Regions from separate parts of the Homo sapiens genome. Here all the other regions are linked to region 4. Evidence: fine-mapped expression QTL. A gene starts in region 4. Each other region holds a variant in brackets. All regions are shown on one strand. Distances are between the middles of the regions.

Evidence for each region. PIP is the estimated chance that this variant, and not a neighbour inherited with it, causes the effect.
Region 1: its variant is fine-mapped to the expression of APBB2 in sun-exposed skin (GTEx, PIP 0.96).
Region 2: its variant is fine-mapped to the expression of APBB2 in whole blood (TOPMed, PIP 0.96).
Region 3: its variant is fine-mapped to the expression of APBB2 in thyroid (GTEx, PIP above 0.99).

The regions. Positions count from the first base shown.
Region 1 is chr4:40,930,830-40,938,958 of GRCh38, reverse strand. APBB2 (amyloid beta precursor protein binding family B member 2) reads left to right here. Exons shown (of 18, transcript NM_004307.2): 8 at 3,820-3,882; 9 at 4,260-4,345; 10 at 4,443-4,503. Among named protein-coding and RNA genes, the nearest start is that of NSUN7, 180 kb to the right of the region's middle. The variant T/A (reference allele first, on the strand shown) is at 3,623.
Region 2 is chr4:40,852,020-40,860,148 of GRCh38, reverse strand. All of the region lies in intron 12 of APBB2 (amyloid beta precursor protein binding family B member 2), which reads left to right. Among named protein-coding and RNA genes, the nearest start is that of NSUN7, 110 kb to the right of the region's middle. RefSeq lists a silencer at 2,830-3,029. The variant C/T (reference allele first, on the strand shown) is at 4,382.
Region 3 is chr4:41,139,081-41,147,209 of GRCh38, reverse strand. APBB2 (amyloid beta precursor protein binding family B member 2) reads left to right here. Exons shown (of 18, transcript NM_004307.2): 2 at 4,068-4,223. Among named protein-coding and RNA genes, the nearest start is that of APBB2, 71 kb to the left of the region's middle. The variant C/A (reference allele first, on the strand shown) is at 4,244.
Region 4 is chr4:41,211,587-41,219,715 of GRCh38, reverse strand. It overlaps APBB2 (amyloid beta precursor protein binding family B member 2), which reads left to right and starts at 5,174. Exons shown (of 18, transcript NM_004307.2): 1 at 5,174-5,311. RefSeq lists enhancers at 2,863-3,112, 2,420-3,234, 6,802-6,881 and silencers at 3,243-3,292, 4,910-5,079, 5,490-5,799.

The DNA of each region.
Region 1 (8,129 bases), 280 kb after region 4:
TAACCCATGAATCCATGGGTGAATTAATCCACTCATGAGGGCAGCGCCTCTTAAAGGCCCCACCTCTGAATACTGCAACATTGGTGTTTAAATTTCGATGCGAGTTTTGTAGTGGACAGACATTCAAACCATTGCATTGTATTAGCTTCAGAACTTCTCAAGTGCACACAGAGATGATATGATTTTAGCTTCTGTCACTGCCACTGTGGAATGTTTTAGTGCTTTTCCTCTCTACCCAGTTCTCAGCAGGTTCAACCCTCCACTCTTGCCCCCTGCTTTGCATTTTGCTACCACTTCGTAGAGATTTTCTTAGCATTGTAGAGAAAGTCCCCTGGTAGGGACATACCCAGCCCCTGAGACTTAGTCTTTAAGAGCACTCTGTTGATATTGTCAAAGAATCAACTCCATTGTTGGCCTTTTTCCAGCTGAAAGATAATGCGTCATTTTTGTTTGCTATGTGGAATTGCTTTCCAAGACCCCAGAAGAGAAACATGGAAGAAGAAAACTCTCAGTAGTCAAGGTTATATGATCGGATTCCCTCCTTACTGGGTCCAGCCTCACACAGCTTCCGTGTGGTGCTCAAGGGTTTTGAGGAGTGCCATACCCCGGGCATTGGGTCAGTCCCCCTAGACACACTGTCTCTGAGGAGCTAAGGCTCCAAGGCTCTCCCAGAACTGAGCAGGATCAAGTAATCAGAGAAAGGGAGGTTGCAGCCTGGACAAGGTCAGGACAAGCACCAGGAGGGTGTCCCAGCTATGACTGTGGTACCAGAATGTCACTCAGCTGTGCAAGGCTTTAGCTGCATTGCCTGGAGGGTTACCAGGCTCATGGAAGCTTGTTGCTCATAGAAGATGGTCCCTGTTGGTCCGTTACCACCTCTTTCCCCATCTTTGTGTTTGTCTTACCTGAGGCATATTGTCCAACTTGCTTTTTCCCCTTTTAATGTTTTTCTCTTTGTCTCTCCTCTTCCTCCTTCATCTCTCCCACCCCTACGGGGGTGGATACAGACTTTCTGTAGAACCAAAGAATCTCTGTTGGGTTGTGCTTTTTTAAAAATTTGTTAACTAAAAATTATTAGCAAAACTTATTAGCCAAATATAGAAAATATTCTCTCTTCTTAATTAAAAAAGTTAGATGAATAGACCATGTAATTCTTAAAATTTAAGACAAAGTGACTTTGTCTTTCATTGACTTTAATTTTTTAAAAAAGAAAAATTATGGTCACTTATACATTGGAGAAAGTTTGTCATATTTGATGTAAATGAATAGTTGTAAATATAGGAGGGGAAAAAAGATCTTTGGCCCAGTCATAACACATATAATGCCAGTTTCCATTTCCTTACTGAGTTTTGTGCTAAAGGATTTCCTTAAGAGTGCCCGTGTTAAGTTTTTGTAAAATCACTATACAGAGCCTTTGTTTATTTAAATCTGTAAAAGGTGATTGTTGGACATTTGCCATCTAACTCATGTTTCCATAACATGAGAGCTGGATTCTGACAGTCTTAATACTGTTTTTAGCTTTTGCTTTACAGATACCCTTATGTCCAAAGAGTAAATGCATTAAAAATTTTAAAAACCACACACACGCAGAGAACTGTTTTAATTAGGTACTGAAGACTTTTCTGAGTACTTGTTTTAGAAAATACTCTTCTTTTACTTTCTGTAGCCTCAACATATAGGGTCCCTTGGGGATAATTTCTGAAATTCTTTTTGTGAGGTAACTTTGTTTTTCTTGTTTCTTTATAAATTTCTCCACAAAGACACAATTATCTTGGGTCTTCCTAATTCATCATCTGATTATCCTTTTTTAAAGTTCAACTTAACAACAAATATTGCTCACATGTAAACAGTGATGACAATTTGAGGCCATATAAGCTTGTTTTCTTTTTGAAAAAGAAATTCTAGCTTAAAATTTTATTTTGTACTTGATATTTCAGGTCCTCATCTCACATCCATATTAGTAGCCCTACAGTGGTCCAAACCGAAATTGGTCACTGGCCCATCTGGAAATATGAGAAAAATTGGGCATCTTTCTCTCAGGAAAATGTACATGTACAAAACCCCGCACCCATTTCAGGGGTTCATAGCTCCTCCGAGCTAACAGGTTAAGATTGCCCTAGGTTATTAATTTTCTCTTCATAAAGACTGAACACTGCTTCTGGGGGTAGAGTGAGGGGAAAGGTAAGGGATTGGGCAACATTCCTGCCCTTTATTCATTAAGAGAAATTATTTTTTAAAAGTAAATATAGTGGTCTAAGTTCCCATTTTATTTTGAAAAGCTGCAGTTTAGGTGCCTAGACCAAAAATGAAAATGACACCACATGTGCAATAGTAATAATGGGTCTAAATTTGAAGTGTCTTTGCTCTCAGAGAGGCTTGCAGAGTTTGGTAAGTGCATGTTGCACCAGGCGCCATGGCTTACGCCTGTAATCCCAGCACTTTGGAAGGCCTAAGTGGGAGGATCACTTGAGCTCAGGAGTTCAAGACCAGCCTGGGTAGCATAATGGAACCCCCATCTCAACAAAAAAGTTTTAAAAAATTAGCCAGGTGTAGTAGCATGCACCTGAATAGTCCCAGCTACTCAGGAGGCCAAGGCAGGAGGATTGCTTGAGCCAGGAGGTCAAGGCTACAGTGAGCTGTGATTGGGCCACTGCACTCCAGCCTGGGTGACAGAGTGAGACCCTGTCTCAAAAAAATTTTTAAACAAAATAAATGCATCTTTCGACGCACAAGACATTTAAGCTTAGTTTTTTTCTGCTTTTAGTGGTTTTTAAAACTGTATCAATGTTGTGAGTAAAAGTTATGGGTCATTATTCACTTCTCATTTTCAAAGAACTTCAGTTGAAAAGTGATTTAGCTGAAAAGTTTTGATGGTTGATTTCTTATACAAACAGATTTGCCTAACCAGTCAGTAAAGCAATTCACAAGACTGTCCCTGAGTTTTATTAGCCTTGCTTGCTTATTTCCCCAAATCTTAGATGAAAAATACTTGAATATTCACTAGGCCTAGTAGAAAGAAAAGACATTTTCTCATTGTCTGAGGTGGATGGAGCAGTTGTTTAGATTTGGAAATCAGTTATTGCAAGAGCTCTCGCAACAAAGCCAGGCTTCATGCCTTGCACTATAATTACGTTTAGAAAATCATTTCATGATCAAGTATTAATTTGTGAAGAAGCTTTTGAAGCAAAAAAAAAAAAGTAGAGCTTTTATGAATTAGAGAAATTTATGTTAGACTGTTTAGAGTTGTTTTTTGTTAGGTTAAATTTCCGCCAAGTGTTGATGTCAGTCTGTGTTCTTCACTAACCCTCTCTCCCCATCATTCTCCTTTTTTTCTTTTAAGTGAAAATATCTTGACCCCCAACTTTTGGGGCCCTCAGCCATGGGCATTCCCTAGTTTCCAAACAAACACGGTACCCGTCCCTCATTCCACCCCCACCACCAGAAAACAGTTCTGTTTGGTTTATAGGGAGGAAAATGATTATTATGGAATTAGGTATGCTAGTTATTGAATACTTGGAATTATATTGTTTGCTTTTAAAATTACCTTAAGGAAATAACTTCACTGTCTGCTTCTAATAATGTTTAGTCATTTATTTGGTAAGTAATTAAAGCACCATCACTC[T/A]CCTGCCCTCGTCTTCAGGTGATAATCTAGACATAGAGGGAGTGAGCCAACAAGTTGCTGTTAGAGTTAACTTGTTCCCTAACCCATCTTGTGAATATCAATGCTAACAACAGTGTCTTGTGTTTTTTTTTTTTCTTTTCTTTTCTTTTTCTTTAAATCAATGTGCTTTTTTCCTATGTGAATAATTATATGTCTAGAAACAGCCATGGAGTGATTTTGCTGTTCTGAATGGGGGAAAGATTAATAGTGACATTTGGAAGGCAAGTATATTGTCAGATCTTAGATCATTTAATATTTTATCCTTTCTGCATGGCTGTGGCTGTATATTTTTCTTCTTTGTGAATATCATGCATTCTGCAGGGACACAGTGATCGGGCTTCTTGCTAGGGGCATTCAGCTCACACTCCTGTTGCCTTTTTTTGGTGTCTCCCATTGTGAATGCCCTAGGTTCCCCGTTGTTTTGTAAGAACAGGAGTTTGCACCAGTCAGCATTCAACAGTCCTTGCATGCCTTTCTCTGCCTAAGCTCACGTACACTCTCTGCCTCTTGCTGGGAAGACGTTTCTCCCCTTTGATATTTGAGGCAATGAATGGTCTTCTCCCCCATTGTACATTAACAAGGTTCTATTTTCCTCTAGGATTTGCATGCAGCCACTGTTAACCCGGACCCCAGTTTAAAAGAGTTTGAAGGAGCAACCCTACGCTATGCATCTTTGAAACTCAGGTAGGACATTAGTAGGATCGACCTGCTGTCAATGTATGGCTTTGTGCAGATAGTTTGCAATAGAATTCTAAGTCCACTTTTCTGTTTTTCTGCCTAGAAATGCCCCACACCCTGATGATGATGATTCTTGTAGTATCAACAGTGACCCAGAAGCCAAGGTTTGTAAAGACTTGCTTTCAGCCACCAGGTTATATTCTTAGATCCAAATAATGACTTTGGATCATTGTCCAGTTTTTACAAACCATCAACCCAGAGCCATTTAATAAGTAATTATCCCTCAATTTTCTCTTTCCTAATCTCCCTGACACTTGAAGAAAACCCCTAGGCTAAGTTAGGTTTGGGGGGATTTCTAGAACCATCAAGACTCTGCCTGTATCTCACTACGTCAGCTCTTTGCACAATGTAATAAATTACCATTATTGTTCAAATGGGTGGGCTTTAGAAGTCTTTAAAGATACACCAGGCTCTGCCTTGCAAAGCAATGGGAGAGGAAGCTAAACAGGTAGGGTGTGAGACCCCTCCCACCTACCGCCACCAGAGCAGCCTCATATCTGTGCAAGGTGAAATCTCTTTGCCATTCCTGTCATAAACACAGATTGGATAATTAGGTTTTATGATGGAAAACTGGGGGCAGTTGGGGCAAACTTGTGTCCATTTTGTTTCTGGACTTCTGGTAGGTTGCTAACAGAGCCAGCTTTCTGGGCATGTGGCCAGTGCAGCTGCACAGGCCCCACAATGAGAAGGCCCCTGTGTGTGGGGATGAATGCTTCAAGGTTGCTGTCAGGAAATTCTTAATCTTTGAATTTGTATCTTATAAGTCAAGTCCAATGGAATGTCCATGAGAGGGCTGGGCTTTGGATTGCACACAGTCCTGCCACCTCCCAGCGTCCCTGTGCGGTTCTCACCTTCTGGCCCCCCGGCATCTCAGGCCCTGCCAGACCTCCCTATCTCCCTCCCTACGTAGAGACTTCTACTGCCCTCTACCGCGGAAGAGACATGGGTGTGAGCACGGGAGGGTTGGGGTCAAGTGCACACTCCCTGGGTATCTTGGGATTGGAGCGTGGTGGTGACCAGCCCAGTCTGGGCTGGCAACACTGCTGTGTGTTCCACAGGCGACTCAGTGGGGGTGAGCCTCTTGCCTACCCGCAGTCCAGGCACCTAGCATGTCCCAACACTGATGTTGCAATACATTTATGGGCCACCCATCTGCTGTGGGTTGAGATTGTGGGGCCATGGGAAGAGAGGGTTCCTGGCTTGATTTACCCGCCCCTGATCAGTGCATGGTGCATCTGTCCAGCAGCTGATGGGAGAGGGTACCCAGAAGCCAATGGTCTGTGTGCAGGTACCAAGATATGGACAGGGCCCTGAGTGTTTGTAAGGGTTTGCACTTACAAGTATCCCCATGCCTGAGGGATTGTAACATTAAATAGCAATTAAAAAACACATTAACGGCCAGATGTGGTGCCTTACGCCTGTAATCCCAGCACTTTTGGAGGCCGAGGGCGGCGGATCACCTGAGGTCAGGAGTTCAAGCCCAGACTGGCCAACATGGTGAAACCCCGTCTCTACTAAAAATACAAAAATTAGCCAGGCTTGTTGGCACATGCCTGTAATCCCAGCTACTCAGCAGGCTGAGGCAGGAGAATCACTTGAACCCAGGAGGCAGAGGTTGCAGTGAGCTGAGATCGCGCCACTGCACTCCAGCCTGGGTGACAGAGCGAGACTCCATCTCGAAACAAAACAAAACAAAACATCTTAACAAGCCAAGAGAAAGCATACGGAAGAAAGGAAAAACTTTTATGTTTTATTATTGTTTGTAGCGTCTTCCCCCTGCTTTTTGAACGGGGCGGGGGCTTGCATTTTCGTTTTGCATTTTTCATTTACAAGTTATGCATCTGATCTTCGGTGCTAACAACCATGGAATTCCACCTTGTCTACTTCAGCACCTTCCCCTCCCCTCCCCTTCACCCTCCTGTGCCATGGAGAGAGAAAGAATCTTCCCAGATTCTTTTTTATTTGTTCTGAATCCCAAAGCAGATCTGTGTCTACAAGTAACATCGCAAATAGGTTTTCTTAGTAGCACTTAAGAGGGGAACACCATACAGGTTCAAAACCTTGACTCCTTTGCCAGAAACTGCCATATTGCCAGTTGGTTCTGTAAGTATCTTAGGGCTTGCAGTGAAATCTGTGCTGCTTCTGGTCAAGTCAGCTTTGTTCTGAGCACAGCCAGTAATATCATGGCCACTCTAGAGCCAGTGGCATTCTGAACAAGTCCTTGGGCTGCTTCTAACATTGCTGGTCTTTAAAGATAAATTTTATGGTAAGGAACGCAGGTTGTGAACAATTTGCTTTGCTACTTGATGTTTTACAAATTCTATCAGCAAAGGCTGGAAGAGGAGCAGTGAATATCTCTGTCCACCACTAAGGGCTGGGGCAGTGATGTATGTGGAGCCAGGGTGTGAAATTGACAAGAGGGAAAGCATGGAATGGAGATGGAATTGTAATAGGAATAGGAGGACTGGTTCCATTAAATCCAAGTCAGTGGGTTGGGCTTTCTCTTTTTCCCTTCCGGCTGTGTTGCTTACTGAATTCTTTATCTGCCACCTTTTTATTGCCAGCATGTCTATTTCAATGCCTGTTATGAGTCTGTTCACGTTAGTAAGGAAGCTCAGCTTTGTCTTACGTTCCTAAAGCTGTGCTTAGTTTTAAACAACAACAAAAAATACATGCATTGTATTATTCATCTGTGTCTTACTTTGTTCCATAGAAGATGTGAGGAGACTTCTAAGAACAAACACTTTAAAAAAAAAAAAAGGGCACAGAAAATATAAGAGAATAATCAGTGCATCAGTCTGGGCTGGAATAATATAGAGAGTAAGGAAAGATCAGCCTAGGGAGAATGAAAAACCTACAGCTTTTCAGATCTCAAGATTTGCACAGCTGCTAACATGGACCTGCAGGTGGGGTTTTCTGTGTGTGCCTCCTGGTGATTATTTAACCTGAGGATTTTTAGCATGAATGGAATGAATGCCTAGAAGGGCTCATCAGAATCTTGAAAGGACTTTTGCAAGCTGGTACAGTGGCTTGTGCCTGTAATCTCAGCACTTCGAGAGCCCAGGAGTTTGAGACCAGCCTAGCAACATAGCAAGACCTTGTCGCTACAAAAAAATAAAAAAATAGCTGGGTGTGGTGTCCCATGCCTGTGGTCCCAGCTACCTGGGAGACCGAGGTGGGAGGAGCCTGGGAGGTAAAGGCCGCAGTGAGCCATAATCGAGGCACTGCTGTCCATGAGAAGTCCATGAGTTCAGAGCTGACTTCAGTGAAGACACATTGGAGGAGCTTCCATCCCCTATCGGAGTCATTCCTGCCTGTTTTGTGTTGCCTGGGGGCCAGAGCCAGCACCTCAGAGGGAGGAGTGGCAAGACCTAGGCTTTCTGGATGTTCCAGTGCCTTTGTAGAATAAGTTACTCACCTTACATGACCCTTTACATTCTTGCAGTCCACCAAGAACCAAGGAACCAAGTGGTCCCCTCCCCCGAAAAATCCTGACTTTAAAAATAATATTTGGGCTGGGCACAGTGGCTCATGCCTGTAATCCCAGCAGTTTGGGAGGGTAAGGCAGGCAGATCAAGAGGTCAAGAGATCGAGACCATCTGGGCTAACACAGTGAAACCCCGTCTCTACTAAAAATACAGAAAATTAGCTGGGCATGGTGGTGGGCGCCTGTAGTCCCAGGTACTCAGGAGGCTGAGGCAGGAGAATGGTGTCAACCCTGGAGGCGGAG
Region 2 (8,129 bases), 360 kb after region 4:
AAGGTTGAATTCTTCACTGTACAGAAACAAAACCAGACTCTGTAAGTTTATAAAGCTCACTGTAAAGTGAAGGAGATGAATAATAAATGGATGATTTTCCAAATATTTAACACCAAGCTGCAGCAGGAGTACGAAGGAAAAGCCTGGGATGCTGTCAGGGAGGACACTGCCTGTCAGGAACATCTTCCAAAGGAATCAACTTTTGGGCTGAGATTCCTAGAAGATGAGAGGGATTCATCAGGTGAGCAGTGCAGGGAAGAGCATTCTAGGAGGGTCACAGTCAGTGCAAAGGCTCTGAGGTGGGAAGTAGCTGGGCGTGTTCCAGGAACTGGAAGAAGAAAAGGGGACTGGAGCAGAGACAAAGAGGAGGGAATGTGGTTGCAGCATTGGAGATAGAAGCAGGGACCTGATCCCAGGCGGCCTGTGAGACCCTGAAAGCGATTATAGACTTTATCTGCATTGCAGTGGGAAGCCACTGTGTGGTTTTAAGGTTCGAGCATGGATACTCATATTTGTGATTTTCGTTTTTGAAGGGACTCGCATTTGTGATTTTTGTTTTTGTTTTGAAGGGACAGGTGTGGCTCCTGTGAGAACAGCTTGTTAGAGATGAGTGGAGGCAAGGAGACTGTTAAAACACTACTGCAGGCCGGGTGCGGTGGCTCATGCCTCTAATCCCAGCACTTTGGGAGGCTGAGGTGGGCAGATTACTTGAGGCCAGGAATTCAAGACCAGCCTGGCCAACATGGCAAAACCCCATCTCTGAAGCATGAGGATCACTTGAACCCAAGAGGAGGAGGTTGCAGTGAGCCAAGATAGCGGCCACTGCACTAGTGAGACACTGTCTCAAAAAAAAAAAAAAAATGACAGCAGCCCTCCTGATGAGATGTTGGCTGGAACTAGGGTGGCAGCATGGAGTTGAGAGAAGGGGGCAAGTTGGAGAGAGCAGGAGGAGGCAGAGTTGGCAGGACTTGTCACACATGACTTCCTGCCAGCAGACCCTCAGCTGTCACACTTGACGTACCCTGTGGACATCTGGCAGACCCATCTATTTGTTGCTTCTGCCCTGCTATAGACAGAGAATCAGACAACCAAACTCACTGGAATGATGTGTAAGGAAGGAGAGGCAGCCTTTGAAGGGGTGACAGGTACAATCCTGTTAACTTGTTTCATATCTCTGAGCTTGCTGCTGTCTGTTCTGGCTGCTGAACCCCAAGTCTTAAACCCTCTTCTAGCCTCACTTGCAGTTTGTGTTGTGTTCCAGACAGTTGTGGTTGCCAAAGCAGTTTACTGTCAATAACTCTTCCAAATAATTGAAGTGTTACTGATCGTAGATTCAGAAACAGCATGAGTTAAATCTTGCCCTCCCTAGAAAGACAACTGTTAACTAGAAAAGCATAATATAAAATTTTCTGCACAGAACCTGGTACTTAGGAGGAGCTTAGTAAATGTTGAACAAATGAGAAAACACCTGATCCTCATTTAAACATGAACATTAAAGTTGTCTGTACACCTGTGGTGTGTTTTACCAAACCCAAACAAGACCTATAGTTAAATACTCCCTTGATTTTCCATGTGTATTTCCTATTTTCTGTTCCTTTCTTTGTAAAAGGAGCGTATGAGACTTTGAATATAGCCAAAAACATGGCTAATATGCTTTGCCTATTTTGCTCTTTTTTTTTTTTTTTTTTTTTTTTGAGACGGACTCTCACTCTGTCACTCAGGCTGGAGTGCAGTGGCGCGATCTTGGCTCACTGCAACCTCCACCTCCCAGGTTCAAGCAATTCTCCTGCCTCAGCCTCCCTATTTCACTTTGTTAATTGGCTAATCAAATAACTTACGCTTGCCCAGAAACAATTAGAAAGAGGAAGTACTTTCAGTGCTCACAGAATACAGTCAGTGAGAGACCTTGGATTTTCCTTTCCAACTCATATATTTATATGACTAGTGGCTAGCCAGGACTCTTACTTAAAGTGCTGAAAGTGCTGTCACTTAGCCAATTGGACATTTTCTGCTTCCATGTATATGGGGGGAGGGGCGCTCAGCTAGAGATGACAATGTTGGGGTGCCTGTGGGATCTTGGCTTCAAGTCAGCTATAAACAAAAGGTGTCTTAAAAGAGGTAGGGATTACAAAAGGGTGTAGGGGTGTACTGCTAAGTGCTTTGTGTAAATTGGCAGATGATCTGTAAACACTTTCCAGCTCGATTCAGAATTTTCTGCCTCTTGAAATCTGATTATTCAGATTTATAAAACTACAATTTGGTTTCTGTCTTTCTGCCCAAAGGCTTTCTGGCTGTGGGCTGCAATACCTCCCTTCCCCAACCACCCCTCCCCGCCCCCCATTTCCCCCACTCGCCCCACAATCAGGATCGTAGAAACCCAGCCTGGTGCGGTGGCTCACCCCTGTAATCCCAGCACTTTGGGAGGCCGAGGCGGGCGGCTCACTTGAGGCCAGGAGTTTGAGACCAGCCTGGCCAACATGGTGAAACCCCATCTCTACTAAATAGGAAAAATTAGCCAGGCATGGTGGCGGGCGCCTGTAATCCCAGCTGCTAGGGAGGCTGAGGCAGGAGAATCGCTTGAACCTGGGAAGCGGAGGTTGCAGTGAGCCGAGATCGTGTCACTGCACTCCAGCCTGGGCGACAGAGCGAGACTCTGTCTCAAGAAGAAAAGAAAAGAAACCAGAAACCCAGCAGGCCTAGAGCATCAACTTTTTCTAAAGAGGTTCAGTGGGTTTGAATGAAGTTTCTAAGTCTTGAGAGTCCAAAAAGGAAACGTTCGTTACAGGAAGGGAGTATGTTGGGGTGGGGGATCCTCCTTGCCGGCCCTGAGCCAGTCCCCTAGCAGCTGGAGCATCTGGCGGGAGCACCTAGCGGGAGCACTTCACGGGAGTGCGGCCGGGTGGGGCGGGGCCACGCGCCTCCCCAGCAGCCAATGGGCGGCCGCGGCGGGCGGGGCAGGGAGGGCGCAGGGAGGCGCGGGCGCCGCTCTCTTCAACTTGAGCCCGGGGCAGTGCGCGCGGCTGCTTGAGCGACGGCACCGCTGGCTGGTGCCGGCACCCTGGGGCTTGTCGTAGCACCTGGGGCGGCATCCCCGCCCGACTTCGGAAGGACCGGGAGGCAAAGGTGAGGAAGTTGGCGAAGGAACGGCTCTCCTTTGTTTGCAGGTGCGTTCAGGGGGAACGGGGGTCGAGCCCAAGCTCGCTCGCGGGGACAGCGAGGCGGGCGCGGGAGACCTGCGGGACAAAGGCTGCGCCCTCCCTTCCCCGAGTCAGCGCTTAGCGAGTTGCCTGGTCCTGGACGGCTGGAAGGGCTGAAGAGGGGGCTTTCTGCCCCGCCGGTGGGAAGAAGGAGTGAGGCTTGTATGAAATGGGGGGGAGGCGTCCTTGGACCCCCAATTCGCCAGTGCAGCAGGACTGTTCGGGGTGGGCTATTCATTGATGGGGTCTGCACGGGGCATTTCTGCCGTGGACAGCGTTCTATGATTGAGGCAGTGACTGCCTTCGCCTCACGTGCCCCCTGGTGAGGCCACATTTCTGTCTTCCTGTCTACATTAGGACTGAAAGATATTTCAGGGTTTTGGTAATCCAGTATTTGGATTAAAAGCAATATCCTTTCGTGTAGAAAAACTGTGCATTTCCAAATGATTTTAGTTACACGATTTAGGATATTGGTGTGACTTCCATGCGAGAAAATATCTCAAATTCCCCAAATGTAGAAACGCAGCCAGCTCTTGGCATTGAGAAAGAAGTAGTGTTTTTGAAAAGAAAGGCGTGAAGATTTAAATATTGCTTACAACACTCTATTAGCTTGTGGGGGAATCTGTGCCTTTTCTATTATCTGTTTCCCTATACCAATATTGTAACCAGGCACGTCTATGGATTCCTAATTAATGTGTAGCTGTGAATCTTCATTACTGCCTTGGGTGGGAGAAGGCGGAAGGAGGGGGCAATCCCATTAGTCTTTTTCTTTCTTTTTATAACTGCAGCTGCAGCCTGGCTTTGACTTGTATCATGAATGGGGGTTCTGCCTGCTTTCCTCATGCTGTTCTCTTTTAGGTTTTCTTAGGCCATTGAGCAGTTGGCCCTTCCTCCAGCCGAGCTCTTACACAAGAGTAGTTTGTAAGATTCTCTCTAAAGTTCAGATCCTTGCTGCTGCCTTTTAGTTAGTTGAGTTCAGAAAGGAATTATTAAGTGTCCTGAGGCCTTTCCTAAGAAGTTAGAAGCAGAATGTGTTTGTAAATGTGGTCTGTAATTTTGTAAAAGTTATAAGTAAAAGGGAGTGTGAATGAAATGCTTAAGAGGGGAAAGACTTTCCATAAAGCATCAGCCAGTATTATCAAAGAAGGTGTCATGGTTTGTAGCTCAGTAAGAACCCTACTTTC[C/T]GTTTTGCTTCCTTTTTTTTGTTTTTTTTTTTGAGACAGAGTCCCTCTCTGTCACCCAGCCTGTAGTGCAGTGGCACAATCTCGGCTCACTGCAACCTCTGCCTCCCAGGTTCAAGTGATTCTCCTGCCTCAGCCTCCTGAGTAGCTGGGACTATAAGTGCACACCACCACACCCGGCTAATTTCTGTTTTTTTGAGTAGAGACGGGATTTCACCATGTTGGCCAGGCTGGTCTCGAACTGCTGACCTTGGGTGATCCACCTGCCTCGGTTCTCCCAAAGTGCTGGGATTACAGGCATGAGCCACCATGCCTGGCCTCATTTTATCATTCTCACTTTGCAGATGTGAGAAACACACTTTTCTAACAGCCGCCACGTTGTTTAGTTCTAGCTTTTCTGCAATGGGGATAATTTATTTAATAAGTATTTATTGGACACTTGCCATGTGCTGGGCATTGGTGCTGGTGATTAAGTGGCATAATAAATACAACAGGTGTCTTCTTCCTTTCTTGGAGCTCACACTATGCTGGCGTGGGGCCCATTGCAGGTTCTCTGCACTGGAGCATCCCTGGGAAGCAGTGTGGATGACACCAAGGTGAGACAAGAAGATACTGCTGCTGATGGCCGCCTTGGAGGTCAGCTGAGCATGTGGCAGTAGGCGCAAACAACGAGGGGCCTCAGGTCATCTGCACTCCAAGGGTGGAAGTATTAATCACACCAGTGGGCCATTGGGCACTAAAGTCGGTCATCTTGAACTTGCTTACTTTGATCTCAAAGGAGCCTGCAGCTGCAAGGAGGGGCAGAGCTGAGTTCTAAAGAGTTTGAACATTGGCATTGTTGATTTCAATGGGGTAATTCCAGTTTGTTACAAAACTATCAGTCATGCAGCCTCCTTGTCTCACCTATACAGCTTTCCTCTTGGACAGCCCCCCTAGGAAATGAATTTCTTTTTCTTTCTTCTTTTTTTTTTTTTTTTTTTGGAGATGGACTTTCGCTCTTATCGCCCAGGCTGGAGTGCAGTGGCGTAATCTTGGCTTACTGCAACCTGTGTCTCCCAGATTCAAGCGATTCTCCTGCCTCAGCCTCCCGAGTAGCTGGGATTACAGGCGCCCGCCACCACACATGGCTAATTTTTTTGTATTTTTAGTAGAGACAGGGTTTCGCCATGTTGGCCAGGCTGGTCTTAAACTCCTGGCATTAGCTTATCTGTCCATCTCGGCCTCCCAAAGTGCTGGGATTACAGGCGTGAGCCACCGCGCCAGGCCTAGGAAATGAATTTCATTCTGTACCACTGGCTGAGCAAAGCTTTACATCTGTCCAGGCTCCCGAGTGTTAAGAGATGACTTAACTGTGTCCCTATTTACTCTCCATATACGTTTCATGGGTTTTTGGGAGTAAACTGATGGCATATAACCTCTTATCTAGGTTTTCACAAATCTCTAGGATCACAGAAAAACATACTAAGTAGTAGTGTAACTTGTCTTTTTAAAGAGCTTGTGTTGAACACAGAATATGACATATTTGAGGAGTTCTTAGACTTTTGGATTCCTCGGGCCCTAACATAGTACCTAGTATAGGATGCCCTCCATAAATAACCCAGTTGATGAATGGGCAGATGAATGAATGTAGATGAAAATACTTCATTGTCTACTTTTAGGGTTTAATTTTGACCATCCATGTGCTTAATATTTATAGTCTAATGGTTAATATGCTGTTCGGCAGATAAGGAGCATCCATGTGTCAGGCACCTTGTGAGGCAGCATGAAGGACTGAGACAGATGAGGTCCCTGTTTGAAGAGGCAGGAGATAAGCCGGAAAAACAATTCAGGAAGCAAGATGATACAGGTTATGCCGAGTGTCTTGAAGACCATCAACAGCGTGATGCAACAGAGTAGCTCAGAGGGGAAAGGGGCCATCAGGAGGCAGCCTGTCCTAGGAGGCAACATTTGAGCTGGGCTTGAAGGCTGAGAAGAAGCCAGCCATGTAGGGAGTGAATAGAAAGCACTGAGGAACAGCTGGGTGTGGTGGCTCATATCTGTAATCCCAGCACTTTGGGAGGTCGAGGCAGGTGGATCACCTGAGGTTAGGAGTTCAAAACCAGCCTGACCAACATGGTGAAACCCTGTCTCTACTAAAAATACAAAAAAAAAAAATTAGCCAGACATGGTGGTGCGTGCCTGTAATCCCAGCTGCTCGTGAGGCTGAGGCAGGAGAATCACTTGAACCCAGGAGGCGGAGGTTGCAGTGAGCCGAGATCATGCCATTGCACTCCAGCCTGGACAACGAGCGAAACTCCATCGCAAAAAAAAAAAGAAGGAAAGCACTGAGGAAGTGGAGCACTCAACGTGCCTGAGGATGAAGAGGAGGCCAGTGGTTTGTGCTGGAAGAGGTGGGTGGGGACAGGATCCTTTAGGGCTTGTGGGCAGTGCTTAAAGGTTTGCCATGAGGTGCCCGTGAAGAGGGTTAACCAGGGGAATGCCATGATCTAGTTTATTTCATACAGAAAGATCTCAGGGAATAGATATTGGGAACAGGAGTGGAAAACGAGGGACCAGTTGGCTAGCCCTAGTCCAGGAGAGATCAGTGACATGGCAGAGGGCATGAAGAGAAGCAGGTGGGTGGGGGAAATGTGGAGGTTGAACTCGCCAAGTTGACTGTAGAAGATGCAGGAAGGGGTGTGATCTAGGACCATACCTGATTTCTTTGATGCGTTGTTTATGTCTGTAGAAAATACATGCTAATAGAAGTAATAACTGTTCGAGGACAAAGTTATTAAGCCATGGAACAACTCCCTTTACATTTATGTTGTATCAAGACCTTGATTTAAGCCAGACACGGTGGCTCATGCTGTAATCCCAGCACTTTGGGAGGCCGAGTGTCCCCAAAGGATCACTTGAGGCTAGGAGTTTAAGACCAGCCTGGGCAACGTGGCAAAACCTTGTCTCTGCTGAAAATACAAAAATTACCTGGGCATGGTGGCACATGCCTGTAATTCCAGCTACTAGGGAGGCTGAGGCACGAGAATCTCTTGAACCTGGGAGATGGAGGTTGCAGTGAGCTGAGATCGCGCCACTGCCCTCCAGCCTGGGTGACAGAGAAACACACTGTCTCAGAAAAAAAAAAAAGACTTTGACTTTCTTTTCTTTGGTTCTCCAGTGTAGATGAGCAGACGTATCCATCCAGTGCAATCTTGTGTATTTGGCCATTTTTCCAAGATGTTTTCACCCTTCAGTACCCTTTCTGTCATTCTCAACTGGTTATGAGACCTTTGAGCATTTTTCTTTGTTCTGGCATGAAAATAAAGAATCAGACTAAGAAGAGAAGATGGGTTTAAGCCTTAATTTATATGGAATTATTCTACCTTTGTTCCCAGTTTATAAGAATCCATTCATAATTACTTTTTTTTTTTTTTTTTTTTGAAGACAGAGTTTTGCTCTGTCACCCAGGCTGGAGTGCAGTGTCACGATCTCGGCCCCCTGCAGCCTTCGCCTCCCGGGTTCAAGCGATTCTCCTGCCTCAGCCTCCCAAATAGATGGGATTACAGGCATGCACCACCATGCCCCACTAATTTTTTGTATTTTTAGTAGAGACGGGGTTTCACTATGTTCGCCAGGCTGGTTTTGAGCTCCCGACCTCAAGTGATCCACCGGCCTTAGTGCTGGGATTACAGGCATGAGCCACTGCGCCCGGCCCCGTAATTACATTTGAAGTTACTTCACATGCAGCATCCTCTGTAGTTCCAACAATTGA
Region 3 (8,129 bases), 73 kb after region 4:
ATCTTACAAATGACTTTAAGGTGTTACTGGAACAATACTCACCACAAAGCTATGATTTCATTGTGAAATACCAACAAGACCCTGATTCCGTTTGCCTGCTGCAGACATTAATGTTTACTGTTAGAACTGAGGCATCAAAGGGAATAAATAAACTGCTGACATTGTGTTGCCTTCAGGATCCGTCACGGGAATATATGGTAGGGGTTTGAGAAGTGGTTTTGGGTGGAGAAAAAGCATTTTCTTTTTTCACCCAGCGCCTGACTTCTCAGTTGAGGCGGGACAGAGCCATTGTGTTTGTTCGGGCTCTCGCAAAGCCAGATCACATCAGCCCGGGCCGCGGCTTTATGCGCAGCCTCACAGTTCATGCCTTTGTTGCCCTGATGCACAGTCGGGAAAGGATGACGAGAAGGGAGCTCAGTAAAGACCTTTCAGGGATTGTTTCTGAGTTTGTCATTGCCACCTGTCCTCCTCTCTCCCCTGGCTTTTCAGACTATTCCCATTTTGTGAGACTCCTGGGTTTCTGATTGGTGTGGCGTGGATACCATAGGTAGATGTAACACAAAAAGTGGAAGTAAACAATGTTTCAAAGAAATAATCTTGAAGAAGAGAGAAAAAAGCCTGCTCTTACTCCAAGGCTGTGTGGACATAAGCGATGAAGGATTAGGATTATTTTAATTATTAGTGACTGTATTGTTTTCTTTATTTCTTTTTTTTCTGAGACGGGGTCTTGTTCTCTTGCCCAGGCTGGAGTGCAGTGGTGAGACCTCAGCTCACTGCAGCCTCAACCGCCCAGGATCAAGCAATCCTCCCACTTCAGCCTTCTGAATAGCTGGACCACAGGCATGTGCCATCATGCCCGGGTTTTTTTTTTTTTTTTTTTTTTTTTGAGACAGTCTTACTCTGTTGCCCAGGCTGGAGTACAGTGCTGCTATCTTAGCTCACTGTAATCTCCTCCTCCTGGGTTCAAGTGATCCTCCTGCCTCAGCCACCTGAGTAGCTGGAATTAGAGGCGTGTGCCACCATGCCTTGCTAATTTATGTATTTTTAGAAGTGAAAGGGTTTTGGCATGTTGGCCAGGCTGGTCTTGAACTCCTGGCCTCAAGTTATCTGCCTGCTTCAGCCTCCCAGAGTGCTAGGATTACAGGCATGAGTCACCATGTTGGATAAATATTTAAAATTTTTTGTAGAGATAGGGTCTCACTATGTTGCCCAGGCTGGTCTCGAACTCCTGGGCTCAAGCAATCCACTTGTCTTGGCCTCCCAAAGTGCTAGGATTACAAGTATGAGTCACCGTGCCTGGCATCTCTTAATTTTTGAAACCACTAATGTCTTTCCCTTAAGACTTGGGTCATTTTGGAAGTAAGAGGCCAGACTTGATGCCTTCAGACATTTATTATTTCTAACACTGGTGCATGCATCTTTCCTGTCTCTCACAGGTGGCTTGGTGCAAGTGTAGTTTTATCTTGTTGAAAGCCTTTTGTTCTTCTTTGAACAGTGGGACTGTAGTGTTATCAACAGGGCCAGTGCTAGGACCAGAAAGCTTTCGGTGTGATAGGCAGTTTCTGTTCAGGACACCTGCTGCCCAAGCACAGTGCACTCATTGTTTCTTCAGTTGAACATGTTCTAGGCAGAGCTGTGTCTTTTTTAGCCTAGGATTGAGTCTTCACTTTTTCTCCTGCATGCGTTTCATTTTTGGTAGAATAAATTTCTGTCTTCTTCTTCTGGTTTTGCTGGTATGAATTTAATACCTGCACGTGATTTGTACAAAGTTTATTTCCAAGAGTTCATGCTGAAATGTCATAGTGGTGGAAAGAGCACTTGGTCAAAGTGGAGGCAAATGGTCTGGACTCTCATTCCTGCTTTGCTGGCTGTGTGGCTGAGGGAAAGACATTTTACCTCTCTGGGCACGGGCTTATTAGAGCAATGGGTTGCCAAGGCCCCAGTGTAAAGATTCCACCATTGTGTCTTGTGTTTTTCAGGATGCCAAGAGCATCAGAAATGAGTGTGCCAGGAGTCATTAAGGGCCCTGCTCCTGTGAGTAGGTAACACCAGGAGGCATTCTTTTATTTATTTAATTTATTTGTGTATTTGAAACAAGGTCTCACTCTGTCTCCCAGACTGGAGTATAGTGACGTGAACATGGCTCACTGCAGCCCCGACTTCCCAGGCTGTAGTGACCTTCCCACCTCAGCCTCCTAAATAGCTGGGCCCACAGGCATGTCCCAACATGCCCGGCTAATTTTTTAAATTTTTGTAGAGACAAGGCCTCTCTTTGTTGCCCAGGCTGGTCTTGAACGTCTGGGCTCAAGTGATCCTCTGGCCTTAGCCTCCCAAATTGCTGGGATTACAGGCCATAAGCCACCATGCCCAGCCCGTTCTTTTAACTTAGTGACAGTTTTATGGCATGGCCAGTGATAGAGAAATTTGGATGCGATAGGTGAGGGAGGGAAACAACTATGGTTCTCTGTCTGTGGCAAGTTTGCAGAGTAAAAAAGAATTTTTTATTTCTAGGAAAGTGTTGTTCATCACTGGAAGTGTTACTGGACACTTGGGTTTTGAACGTGTAAATTAAGAACTTCTGTGATCAGATAAATACTTCTTCATTTGTTAGCTCTGTTCAGATAAGAGGCAGACCGAAGATCAGGCTAATATAGCATAGATACCCCATTTCTGATTTGTATTCCTGCAGTCTTAAACCCCTTATTTAAAAATTCTCTTAAAATACATGTTAATTGTAGAAAATTTGGAAAATACTAGAAAGAAAATACAAATAGCTTTCCATTCCATAACCCAAAAGTGCTGTTGTTCATACTTAGGTGTCTTTAGATTATATGCACTCAGTTTGTAGAACAAAATTGGGATCATACCATACATATATAACTTGATATTTTGCTTTTTTTCTGCTGTTCCTTTCGAGATGATTTTTGGGACTGAGGTTTCAACTGAAGGTAGAGATTAATGTAATGTTATGCTTAGCACACTTGTGACGAGGACTGTTTTGATTTACAGAAATAGAACTGTGGACCCAGTATCTGAAAATAACATTTGTCCTGTCCCCTCTTGAATAGACTTTCAATATTTGGCATATACAGATGTCGTCATAACTGTTACTATAATTAACAAATGAAGACTTCTTAATCTATTAGCTCTTAATGTTCACTAATTGCTTTCATAAGATTCCCTCATTGAGTTTTCTGTGCCAGAATTGCTAGCTGCACCACCAGTGAGCATAAGTTATTTCCACACTGTTTTTCCTTAAGCCCTGATTCCTCTAGCTAAAGCATGGCAGCGCCTGTGGGCTAGGCCACATGTTTGGCAGCAGGATAGTTAAGGGATTCCTTTTGCCCAGTTATGTTATACGTTTGATAATATTTATGATTTACTTGTTGAATGTTGGTTTCATATATAATTTCCTCTATTAGGAAATGAAAGATTATTCGTTTCCCCTTTGGATTATGTAGCCTATAAAATTTTCTATTACACCATTCATATTGCAATGTAAATATATTCTAAATCCTGAACCGCATTAGAATTTTTTATAGCCCCCACTTATGTGTCTTTTTGTGGTGCCCTTTGAAGTCCTGTAATGTTTTATATTTGAGATTAAATCTGGGTTTCGCTTTACTTTTTAAAGCATATTGAGCAAGTTAATTTTCTGTTTCAGTTCCTAAGGGGAATGATTCCAGCCCTCTGTGTCCCAAGAATTCAGACTGAGCCCTGCCAGAACATTCCTGTGGTTTTCCACGGGGCAGATCAGTATGTTCATGAAATTTTAGTTGTAGCTTGTGTTTTCCATGGTTAATTAAAACATCTGGCTTTTCAGTTTCCCACAAACAGAGCATAATCACTAGGCCAAACCTTTTCAATAAATGATTAAATATTTCAATCCTCCCCTCAGAATAGCCCACACTTGTCTTTAGGATACCTTGTAAGCTGTTGCCTCTGTTTATAATGATTTTGAACGTTGGGAACATGTTTGAGGTTATCCTGCCAAATATGTGCCCTTGAGAGAGAGAAAGTTGATGACTTTGAGTCCTTATAATGGCTTCTGGCCTTTGCCCCCCCAGGTTGGAGTTGCTGTGGGTGAGCTGCTGTGGTCTGTAGCCAAGCATGCTGTGGTCGGATCTGCCCAGCCGTGGAACAGAAACATTTGCTGGATGGAAAATCCATAAAAGAAAGCTCCTGTGAAAAGCTGAGGCTGACAATAATTTAAGCAAAATCAGGTTAGTATAAGTAAGAGAGG[C/A]TGGATAAAGCGGATTGGGCCGGATAGGGAAAAGTTGTTTTGTTCCTTCCAGGCTCATTTTGGAGACCACCCCAAATGATTATTTTCAGTTATTTGTGAGAGTCCCAGCATGTGTAAATGGCAGATACATGCTGATAGCCTTTTGTGTATAGTGTAATGATGTCTTCCTTTCCTTCTCTTCCTTTTCCTCTCCTCTGTCCTATCCTCTTTCTCATCTTCCTCTCCTCTCTCAGAGAAGAGAGAAGGACGTTGGCACAAATATTGGAAGAAGCCACAACTGGAAGCCACCTATGCCAACTTCAATGGTCTTGGCTTTATTTTGGGGAGAAAGCGGCGTCCAGCCTCATGGAGTTGGATTTGTAGTTTCAAAGACTTGCACTCATTTGTGTTTTCGAACTTTGAAGGGTGGGGCATGGAGACCTGCCATTTCTGTTGGGATAATTCTGGCTGTGAGCCTCCAGTCTGCTTGGCCAGATTTTATATACTCTAATCTTTCCCCAAACAAAAGCCACCAACACATTTCATTTTCTGCAGTGTGTGCATTTGGCATTAAGATACTTATATACGACAGGGGAAGAGAATGTCCTGAAAAACATAGGTGTTTAAATAAATGCCAAATGCTCTCACTGTGGGCCAGGTGAATGAAACAGCATGGATAACCCCATATGAGGCAGTAAAGTGAAATAATTCATTTTGAAAACATATATTATACAGGGACAGACATTGCAGACCATTTCTGTTGGACATTCAGTGGGTAAGTCAGCTTTCTACATAAGCAGCTAATAAATACTCCCTAGAAAGTAGTGAGTCACAGTCTTTCAGAATCTGTGAAGTAGTGAATGTCTGTTGGCTTTGTCTGCCCAGCATCCTTTTCCTCCATCTTTTAATAAATCATCCAGATTTTTCCTGGACAATTGCCCTTGTTTCATTTTCACCCTATGTAGTTAGAGGAGGTGACCCTGCTGACTCAGTTATGGGCATGTAACATAAGCGTGGCCAGTGATATGGTTTGGCTGTGTCCCCACCCAAATCTCATCTTGAATTGTAACTCTCATAATTCCCACATGTCATGGGAGGATCCTGGTGGGAGGTGATTGAATTATGGGGGTGGGGTTTTCCTGTGCCGTTCTTGTGATAGGTAATGAGTCTTATGAGATCTGTTGGTTTTAAAAACAGGAGTTTCTCTGCGCAAGCTCTGTCTTTTTTTGCCTGCTGGCATCCATGCAAGACATGACTAGCTCCTCCTTGCCTTCCACCATGATTGTGAGGCTTCCCCAGCCACATGGAACTTAAGTCCATTAAACCTCTTTCTTTTGTAAACTGCCCAGTCTCAGGTACAGCATGAAAATGGACTAAAGGGTCACAACCATCTTTGGAGGGGCCATAGTATTCTTATTGCAACTATTGAAGAAGTTTTGCCTTCTGTGAGTTTGTTAAGCTGGAGCTGCTAGTGGCAGTTTTTCTATGACTTAGGGAAAACCTTACTGAAAATTAAGACAACACAGGATAAATCAAAGCAGGGAGATGGAGGAAAAGAGATTGGTGGGAAGGGAAGGGACACTCGTATGCATATGCACACATGCACACGCACACATGCGCGTGTGCACACAGACACACAGACACACACACACACAGACACACACACACACACAGACACACACATATTTTTGACCTGCAATTCAGCAGTGCCTAAACCCAGCATCTCCTGTTTCACTTTCTTGGCAACTTAGCTAGTTCATCTGAGTTAGGTGTCTGTCTCTTACATCCAAAACATCCCAATTGGTGGTACCTTCTAGGAGTGAGGTCTTAGTGTAAAATGACTGTGGCATAGTCCCTGTCTTTAGGGGCTCATGGTGTAGGGCAGCAGTCCCCAACCTGTTTGGTATGAGGGACTAGTTTTGTGGAAGACAGTTTTTCCAAACAGTGAGTGGGGTGGCAGGGATGGTTTCAGGATGATCTAAGCACGTTACATTTATTGTACACTTTATTTCTATTATTATTACTACATTGTGGTCTATAATGAAATAATTTTGCAACTCATTGTAATGTAGAATCAGTGGGAGCCCTGAGCTTGTGTTCCTGCAACTAGGTGGTCCCATCTGGGGATGATGGGAGACAGTGGCAGATCATGAGGCATTACATTCTCATAGGAAGCATGCAACCTAGATCCCTGGCACGTGCAGTTCACAATAGCATTTGCGTTCCTATGAGAATCTAATGCTGCCACTGATCTGTCAGGGGGCAGAGCCCAGGAGGTAACGTGAGCGATGGAGACCGGCTGTAAATACAAATGAAGCTGTGCTCATTAGCCCACTGCTCACCTCCTGCTATGCAGCCTGGTTCCTAACAGGCCACAGACTGGTACCAGGGGCCCCTGGTGTAGGGGATAGGCCAGATAAGTATTCACATGACTGACATGCAGTGTGACAATGTATCTCTAGAGGTAAGAACAAAGTTTTGTGGGAACAGAGATGGAATTAGGAATTCTGTTGGGTGGTAGACTAGCAGGGAGGGCGATTATTTAACAAGGTAGAAGAGGATTAAGTCTTAGGAACATTAAAAAACATTAAAAAGATTTAAAAAATAGATTTAATTCAATTACTTGCTTTTTGAGTCTAAAAGAAGGGAAGGCTTTCCAGAGCATATAGTTAAAGTAAATTGCAGATAATGAAGATAATTTCAGAGGTTAGTAATGGTAGAATCTTGTTTATTTACTCTGAATACAATTGTTTAAGGCCTAGCCAAATGAGAGGCTATCAGAAAGCTGTCTGGAGTTAGTTTTAACACGACAAGGTAACAGCTGCTGTTCTCACCAGAACCTCAGTCAGCTTTCTGTTTTAAGGAGAATTAAATGAATTTAAAGACTTATTTCCTCTTTTTAATGATAGAGTTTTCATTAATATTATATTTTGTAATTACACTGTTTTTTGGGGGAAATTTTGCAGCAAGTACAGAAAGTTTCCATGTGACTTCTACTGCCAGTTTCCTATATCATTAGTGTCTTGCATTAGTGTGGTATATTATAATTGATGAGCCAATATTGATACATTATCATTACTAAAATCTATAGTTTATATTAGGTTCACTCTTTGCGTTGTATGTTCTATGAGCTTTCATAAATATATAAGTTGTATTTCCATTACAGTATCATACAAAATAGTTTCACTGCCCTAAAAGAATTGCATGTTCTACCTGTTCATTTCTTCTTCCTGAACCCCTGGCCACTACTTATCTTTTGCCCCATAGTTCTACTTTTTCCACAGTGTCATATAGTTAGAATTATACAATAGATAGACTTTTCAGATTGGCTTTTTCACTTACCAATGTGCGTTTAAGTTTCCTCCATGTCTTTTCATGAATTGATAGTTCATTTTTTTTAAAGCACTGAATAATATTCCATTATATCGTTGTTCCACACTTTATCCATTCACCTATTGAAGGACATCTTGGTTGCTTCCAAGTTTTGGCAGTTACGAACAATACTGCTGGAAACATTAATTTGCAGGTTTTTATATAGATATGTGGATAAGTTTTTTACTCATTTGAGTTTCTCACCATTAAATATGATGTCAGTTTTAGGTTTTTTGTGAATGTTCTTTATCAAGTTGACAAATTTCCCCTCTATTTCTAGTTGCTGAGAGTTTTTATTATGAAATAGTGTTGGATTTTTGTTGGGTGCTTTTTTGCAACTATTGATATGGTCATGATTTTCTTCTTTAACTTATTCATAGGTTGGATGATACTGATACTTGAATGTTGAGCCAGCCTTTTGATAAGAGATTATGTTGACTTTCTAGTTCAATATTAAGAGCTCTTATGTTGACTTGCAGATCAATATTAAGAGCTCTGATACGTGAACATGGGACATGTTTCCATTTCTTTCAGT
Region 4 (8,129 bases):
ATCACTCTGGCAGCGGTGTGAAGAAAGGGCTTGGATTGGGAGTGATGGGTGTCATCAAGGTTGGTTAGCAGGATTCTGAAATATGCATGAAAAGACAGTGAGGACAGTGGACAGTGAGGACAGAGAGGCAGGCCCACATTTGAGAGGCAGGCATTCCTGAGTTGGGAGCAAAAGGGCTTGGTGATTAATTTAATGCGGGTGGTTGAGGAGGAAGGAAGAATTGAAGATGACTGAGATTTCTAGTTTAGAAACCTGAGTAATTGGGGAATGTCATTAACTGAAATAGGAGTGGAAGGAAGGAAATCATCCTATGTGAGGCCTACCAGAAGCTTTACATATGTTATTTAATCTTAAATAAACCTATAATGAAAAAATTAACATGCCCATTTTGCAGATAAGAAAAGTGAGATTCAGTGAGGTAAAGTAGCTTGCCCAAGGTCACACAACTACTAAGAGCTGGAATGTGAAATAAGGTCTTACTCCAGTGCCCCTATTCTTTCCATGATAGTAGGGGACTTTATGCTTTGTACCTCTTTGTACCTTTCTACACTCTAATAATAATTTTAGTTTGGAAAAATAGGACTGAAGCTCAATGGGAAGGTAGACCATGGAAACATGGTCCTCCCAGGAATAGTGCAGTATGAAGAGAGATTAAAGGATTGCCCTAATGACATTAAGGCCCAGAGCAGCACTGTTGAATACAATTTTTTGCAGTGATGCAAATGCTTTTTACTTACATTATCCAATACAGTAGTCATTAGGCCATATGCTACTGAGCACTTGAAATGTGGCTAGTATGAAAGAGGAACCGAAGAGTTAATTCTAACTGATTTTAAGTGATTTCAGATTAAATAAGCATATGTGGCTAGTGACTGCCATATTGGATGGTTTAGGACTAGAGAAACCAGTCAGGCGTAGAGGGTTCATCAGAGAAGAGGCCTTGCTGGTACCCCTGAAAAATCACTCGATATTTGATCATCTGCCTCATACCTCTGGGTAATATTGGTCCTATATTTGGGGACCATAATTTATTAGCTAGCAAAAGGTTTTTTCCTAGTGTGGACTACAAACTTATTTTACTATGTTTTATCTTTAGGAGAGTAAGTACAATACTCCCTCTCCTTTCTTATCTGAGAATCATTATAGTCATTTTCTCTGTATTTACATTTTTCCATACATAGTATTATTTAAGAGCTCAAGCTCCAGGAAAACTGCCTGGGTTCAAATCCCAGTTCTGCCAATGAATATTTTGTGCCTTGAGTTAGCTGCTTCACATTTGCAAGCCTCACTTTCCCTATCCATAAAATAGGGATAATAATAGTGCTTCATTTATAGGGTAGTTGTGAGGATTGAGTTAAATAACCTATGGAAAATGCTTAGCCAGTATCTGGCACATGCTAAATAGTCAGTAAGAGTTAGCTATTCTAAAACTAGTACCGTGTGACAGTGTGTATTTTGTACCTCTGCATTTTGACATTTACTCAACTCTATTTTTGCTTCAATAGAAGGTGTTCCTCCAGATCTCTGTCAGAACATTCCAAAAAGAAATTCATTCCTCAAGATAAGAAGGTAGACAGAGTTTTGAAGAATTAGATTTTATCTTATTGCAGGCATGAGTTTTGAGTTGTTTTTTATTTCACTTTGATTACTAAATTGTTAAAGTATTTAAAATCATTACAGAAGAAAATCATGACCGTGATATTTTGTTGTGATCATTAAAATTCCCTTGGTTTAAGCTCAAACCGTTGCACATATACCACACAATCAAATAATAATACTAGAAGTTCTTAATGTTGGCACAGAAGATTTCTTGATGTTTTGTAGTTATACTGTTTTTTTTGTTTTGTTTTGAGATGAGGTCTTGCTGTGTGGCTCAGGCTGGAGTGCAGTGGCTATTCACAGGCAAGATCCTACTGCAACTTTGAACGTCCAGCCTCATGTACCCTCTTGCCTCAGCCTCCCCAGTAGCTGGTACTACAGGCTTGGGCCACTGCACCTGACTCATACCTGTTTAATTGAAATATTTAATTCCTAGACTCTGGCTATTCAATGCCACTTAGAAGTGGCTGGATATTTGTTGATCATGGACTATTTAAAGACTAATGACGTCACAGGAACAAGTAATAGGATCCCTTTTGTTGTCACCTATTTTGTATTTTGTAATCTTTGGATTGTAAAACTGCATTGTAATATAGTATTGCACTCCCTACGGTGTTTGTGCAAAAAACATTTTTTTTTCCCCATTAGATTGGAATTTTGAGAAATCTGGCTTCAAGTGCCAGTTCTGCCTTTGGTTTGTCTAAATAAAGAAGTCATTTATTTCTCTGGGCCACAGAGAGGTAAATGTCATCTGTAAAGTCTAAGAGTTGATCTTGATTTGATTCTAGAATGGTCTTGAGGTATCCTTCCAAATAAAATTCCTTGGATCTGCCTCCTTCCCCCAACTCCCTAGGAGGACCTTTGGCCTTAAGGGACTTAAGAGAGGTCAGTTTTATCTACTGTTCACAGCGTTTACTTCCATGCTTTAAAAAACATGCTCTTGGAATATTCTTGGATATTTCATTTCCTTGGAAAACAATTAATGGGTGAGTCAGCATGAAGAAAAAAACCCACTCACAATAGATATAAAAATTGCATGAAGTGGTGAAACGAGAAATGATTTTCTTTGTAAACTGAAATGATGAGGTATGCAGAAACCAATTACGTATTTATAAAATGAGCGCGCGGTGGGAAAGCTTTATGTAGCAAAGCTAAAGTGCTGTTACATATTTAGCAAGACAGAGGGCATGGAGATTCCTCTCCATACTGCCTTAAAACTGCTGTTAAACGTTCCTTTCAGTGAGAGAGACAATGTGTTGGGAGGCGGACGAAGGAAGGAAGCAAGGGAAGGGTCAAAGCCTTCCCTCCGGCCCCGATCAGTCCCCTCTGTAAATTCATAATTAAGGGAATTTCCTCCTGCAGCTGCGCAACGCTTGGTGGCCGTTTCGACGTCACTGTCAGGGCATTTCAGGGATTTTGTGTGCCCAGGCAGTGACTTCCCGACTTCTCCGGCGTATCCCCGACGGGGCGCAGAACACCGCCCGTGGCGAAGTCGGGCCGGGGGAGTTTGGGAACCCGTCCCCGGGAGCTCAGCGGCCAGAGGAGGGCGCGGAAGTGTTTCCTGGGTGAGCGCGGCAGCGGGACCCGTTTCCGGAAGGCTGATTGCATCAGGTGTGGAGCAGGGCGCCTCCTCGGCCCAACCTGGCGGCCTCTGCGCCTGCGCGCGCCGCCCCGCCCCCCCCCCCCCCCCCCCCCCCGCCGCCGCGGACTCCACCGCGGGTTTTCCTCTCCGTCGGGAAGAGACCGACCTGGGAGGGGCAGGCTCCGCTCACCTACCCCGGACCCCCGAGAGAGAGCGGGGTGGCCAGGCCGGGTTCCGGGGATCTGAGGGGAGCTGTGAGGTCCGGGAATAGAGTGCCTTGGAAAGAGGACCCGTCTGCAAGGTTGGAGGCTGGTCGATCTCCGCTCCTGACGGGAATGGTGGTCTTGGGCTGGTTTCCTTGCCTCTTTGGCCTTGAAGATCACAGACTAAGAACCACAGGCTCTCCAGTTCAGAGAGCCTGTATTTTCCCCAAGAGGTCTACTGTGGCCCTCGACTGTCCTTGGTCCACGGACGTGTTAGGTGGATCTTGGGGTGCAGAGACTCAGTCCCAAGAGTAAACACTTTTCATGAATTTATAGGGATTTCTCTGTGACAGTATTGTTTTTATGTTGTAGGAAGGAGGGACATGATTGCTGGCCTCCAGCTCGGTCTGAGGGAGATAATTGTTAATTGGAGAGGTTATTGGAGTGCAAAAGTCAGAAACCACCTTCCACAAGGCAGCCCCCCTCCCATCCCTTCGTAACAACCTCACTGAGTCTGCATGAGGGTCCCTCTATACACTCTATTCGCACCTTGTGCATTTCCCTCCCAGCACTCTACCTGTTTGAAATAACCGTTTTGAGTGATTATTTGATAGGTGTCTGTCACCCGGCCGGACTATAAATTCCATGAAAGCAGGGGCCTGGGCTTTTAAATTCACCACTATCCTCAGGCCTAGTACAAGACCTCGTGGATCCTTAATAAACTCATGTAGGAAAGAATAAAGTAATGCCCACCCCACTGCATAGAGTCCTCATAGGAAGAATCACGTGAGTTTTTAATTCGAGATCCTTGGTAGGACTGTGTGTGTGTGTGTGTATGGGTAGGGTTCTCTAAAGTGTATAGTCCTCACACCAGCAGCATCAGCATCCCATGGGAACTTGTTAGATATACAGATGCTTGGGCCCCACCACATATCTACCCATTCAGAGACACAGATTGGGACTCAGGGATTTGTACTTCAGCAAACCCTCCAGGCGATTCTGATCCAGGCTCCAGTTTGACAACCGCTGCCCTGGTGAAGAGCAATCCTAAGGATACTTTGGGGATGTCATTCACAGCGTCTGGGGCAGAGCACGGTTTACCGTTTACTGAGACTCGACTCTTATCAGGGCTTTGTTTGCACGCTTACAATTAGAGTTATAGATAATATTATTGGCAATGGAAAGGAAAACCTCCTTTTCCTCTCCGGCAGTTGTATCTCTCCCCTGATATTATCTTGTGATTTCCGGATCAAAGAAGAGTGTGTGTGCGGCATATGCCTGGGGGTGGGGATAGGAGGTAGAAGGAAGGAGAAGGTGTCGCCTACAACTTGCAGTTAGCCTGGGTGGGTGTGGGCAGCTCTCCTGTGGGGACATTTTCCTATTGCAAGGGAATGCTGGCGTGTGGGAGAAAAGCCAGGGCTAAGGTAACCCAACTGCCTTTTGGTGCAGACAGACACCAGCCACACGGAGGGGATACCCGGGCTGCACTGCACGTCCTGCCTTTGGGTCTTACTGGGGGACCCATTGCCTCCCTGCGTGTTCCCAGGCGATTGGGGAGGGTGCCTCCCGCAGGCCCTGCCGCCTCCACCTGCAGGGGTCGCCCTGGGAGCGCGGCCCGCCTCCTTCTGCCCGGCCCCCACCCCCCGGCCCCGCCTTTCTCCCATTCGGCCCCCTCCCCGCCGGGTCCCTCCAGCCTTCCCTCGCGCAGCCGCTGCCAAAGCCTGGAGAAGTGGAATCTCGTCAGCGCCGCTCCCTGCGCGGGACTCGCGGAACGGCACTGAGCATGCTCAGTTGCCGGAGCCCGTTCTGGTCTCAAGTAGGAAGCTAGTGCGCTGTAACCGCATCTGATCTGGGCGCTCCGGGAAGGGCGAGACTGGAGCAGAGCCGCTGGGCGCCGGAGCCGAGGCGAGCGCCGCGCGCACCACTGGTGAGCCCAGCTTTCTTCCTTGCCTTTGCCCCGGATTCCGGGGCAGCACGAGAGTGCTGGGGAAACACCCGGGTAGCGGCAGCAGCGTGCGGCGAGCGGCTGCGGGTTCCCCCGGCGGCTTCTCCTCTGCTCCCGGCCCCGGGGCTCCGCGGCCACTGCTGCCCGCTCAGCCGCAGCCACACCTGCAGCAGCTGCCGCGGCATCTGCAGCGGGGCGCCTGCTGCGGAGTCCCGTGCGCCCTGCGCCCGCGCCGCAGGGCCAGTGGCACGGCGACTGCGGGCTCACTCTCCTTGACTTCCATCCCTCCCGCTTCCCGGCGCCCTCTTTCCCTCAGCAGCCCCGGCTTGGCAGGGCCTGGGGCGGGGGAGACCGGGTTGGAGGCGGTGCGCCCGGGTGGGGACTGCAGAGGGGAAAAGTGAGGGTGGGCGCCTGCGGGAAGAGCGCACACCCCCTTGTCCTGGCACCGGCCTCCGCTGTGCCGCTCGGCTGTCTCTCCTGGGCGGCAGCGCGCTCCTGCCGGGGAGTTGGAGCCGGGGTTGGCTTCTCCACGAGGGGTTCAGAGGCCAGCCCATGAGACATGAAAGGGGGGAAAAGTTCCTTTTCCCCCTCGGTGGCAGAGAGAGCGTTTAACTAGAAAATGGCTGTGCATAGGGGACCGACTCCAGGAAACTGGCCACTGGGACCCGAAAGCCCCTGCGCTGCCCACCGGGCGGAATGGAGGGTGGTACGCTAGAAATGACATTTGTGCGGCGAGAACAGAGCTGGACGGAGGGAAGGATGCTGAGACCCATAGAAACAATGAAAGGTGGTCTTCACGTCGGTGAAGTGGTGTAGACTACGGGTTCGGGGCAAACAGCCGAGGGAGCATGGGACTAGAATTCAAAAAAATAAATTAATTTGGATAAATCATATGTGGAGTTGTCACCGACCGTTCTGTAGTCAAGTTCTGCGCGGTTTTAGAGCCACGACTGTCACAGACGTTTTTGGATGGATTGAGTGGTTGAGGAGGGTTAAAATTGAGAGGAGAATAAGGTCAGTGTCGGAAGCTCCAACTGGGCTCTCGGAGGGGACAGTTTGTTTAAGTCCCTCAGTCACTGGCTTTACATTGTGTCTAATTACTTACGTGAAATACCCAAAGGATTATCATAAAATGATGCCATCGGTGGTGTTTGAATTCCAAGGAATGAGGAAACTTTGTGAGGTTGGCATGGGTTTATCATTTGTTTTAATATTTCACTGATTTAAAAAAAACAAACACAATGGCAGTTTGATCTGTTGTTTCTGGAGTTTACTCTCTTAAATCTTGCTTTTTTTTTTTTTCTTGTCATGGTTTCAGATTTAAAATCTTGTCCCCAAATGGCCATAATAATGCAGAGTATTAGAATTTGTGTGGCTGGCCTTTTAGGAACAGATGGAATCCTTGAAAGGGGATTTCTTCATGAACTTAGGTAGCAACCTTCTCGTTTTCAACTTGTAGCTTGTAAGCAATATTTGTTCAACAGTTGTTTATCATAACTTGCAACATCCTAGAAATGGCATCGTTCGTGAAGGATGGTATTTGTGGCGAGAATGGGGAAACCTCCAGGCTGGGGAAATGCCGAGAGAACACAGGTGGCAGTAGAGTACAGTGGGTTGATCATAGGGCGGAAGGTGGTGGGGTACAAGTACAAGATTTCAATTGCTGTTCTTTCGTTGTCCATGTACTGTATGACCCCGAAGTCACCGACAGTCTTCGTAAACTGGATGTAACCACGTCTCTAGATATTTGCTGAGAGCCTTTGAGAGACGACTCTAAAGTTGAGATCCTTTCCACAGAAGGTTTTTAGGTCCTATGCTTTTATTCCCTCTTCTAATGGATACTTTTAACTGAATAAATTCACCTTCAAGGAGCCAATGTGAACTGGCTTTCTGAAATTTTTATAAAGTGGTAATTGAAAAGCTGGATGGTGAGGTGGGAGGATTGCTTGAGCCTAGGAGTTTGAGGCTGTAGTGAGCTATGATCACGCCACTGCACTCCAGCCTGGGCAACAGAGTGAGATCCTGTTTCTGAAAAAAAGAAAGCTTGATGAGCTAAAGTGCAAAATACTGGTGTTTACACTTAGCTGGAGTAATGTGAATACTGACTCCAAAATTACTTGGGAAAAAACTATTGCATATATTGTAAGAATCCACATGTACAAACATAAAATATTTTTAAACTGGTACTTTTTGTCATGTTTCAACCTTTTGATGACTGTTTTCTTTTCCTGCCACCAGAAAAACAGCATATGAACATTGAATTCTTTTATTTTTCTGTTACCACAGGAATGAATACTGAAAGCCTTGTCATAATATTAGAATAATGATGTGTGTGGACTATCCTGAGTACTGGATATCTAAATTTATCTTTTAAGAAAAATGGAAGGGAGAGCATCAGGAAGAATAGCTAATAGATACTGGGCTTAATACCTAGGTGATGGGTTGATCTGTGCATCAAACCACCATAGCACATGTTTACCTGTGTAACAAATCTGCACATCCTGCACACGTACCTGGAACTTAAAAGTTGAAGGAAAAAATAAGAAAAATGGTATGTCGTGTCTCTGTACCTTTTTCAATTTCATTTTAAAAATAGACAATACCTGGCCGGGTACGGTGGCTAACACCTATAATCACAGCACTTTGGGAAGCTGAGGCGGGCAGATCACTTGAGGTCAGGAGTTTGAGACCAGCCTGGCCAAGAGGTAAAACCCCCGTCTCTAAAAAAATACAAAAATTAGCCGGGTGTGGTGGCTCCCGCCTGTAATCCCAGCTACTGGGAAAGCTGAGGCAGGAGAAT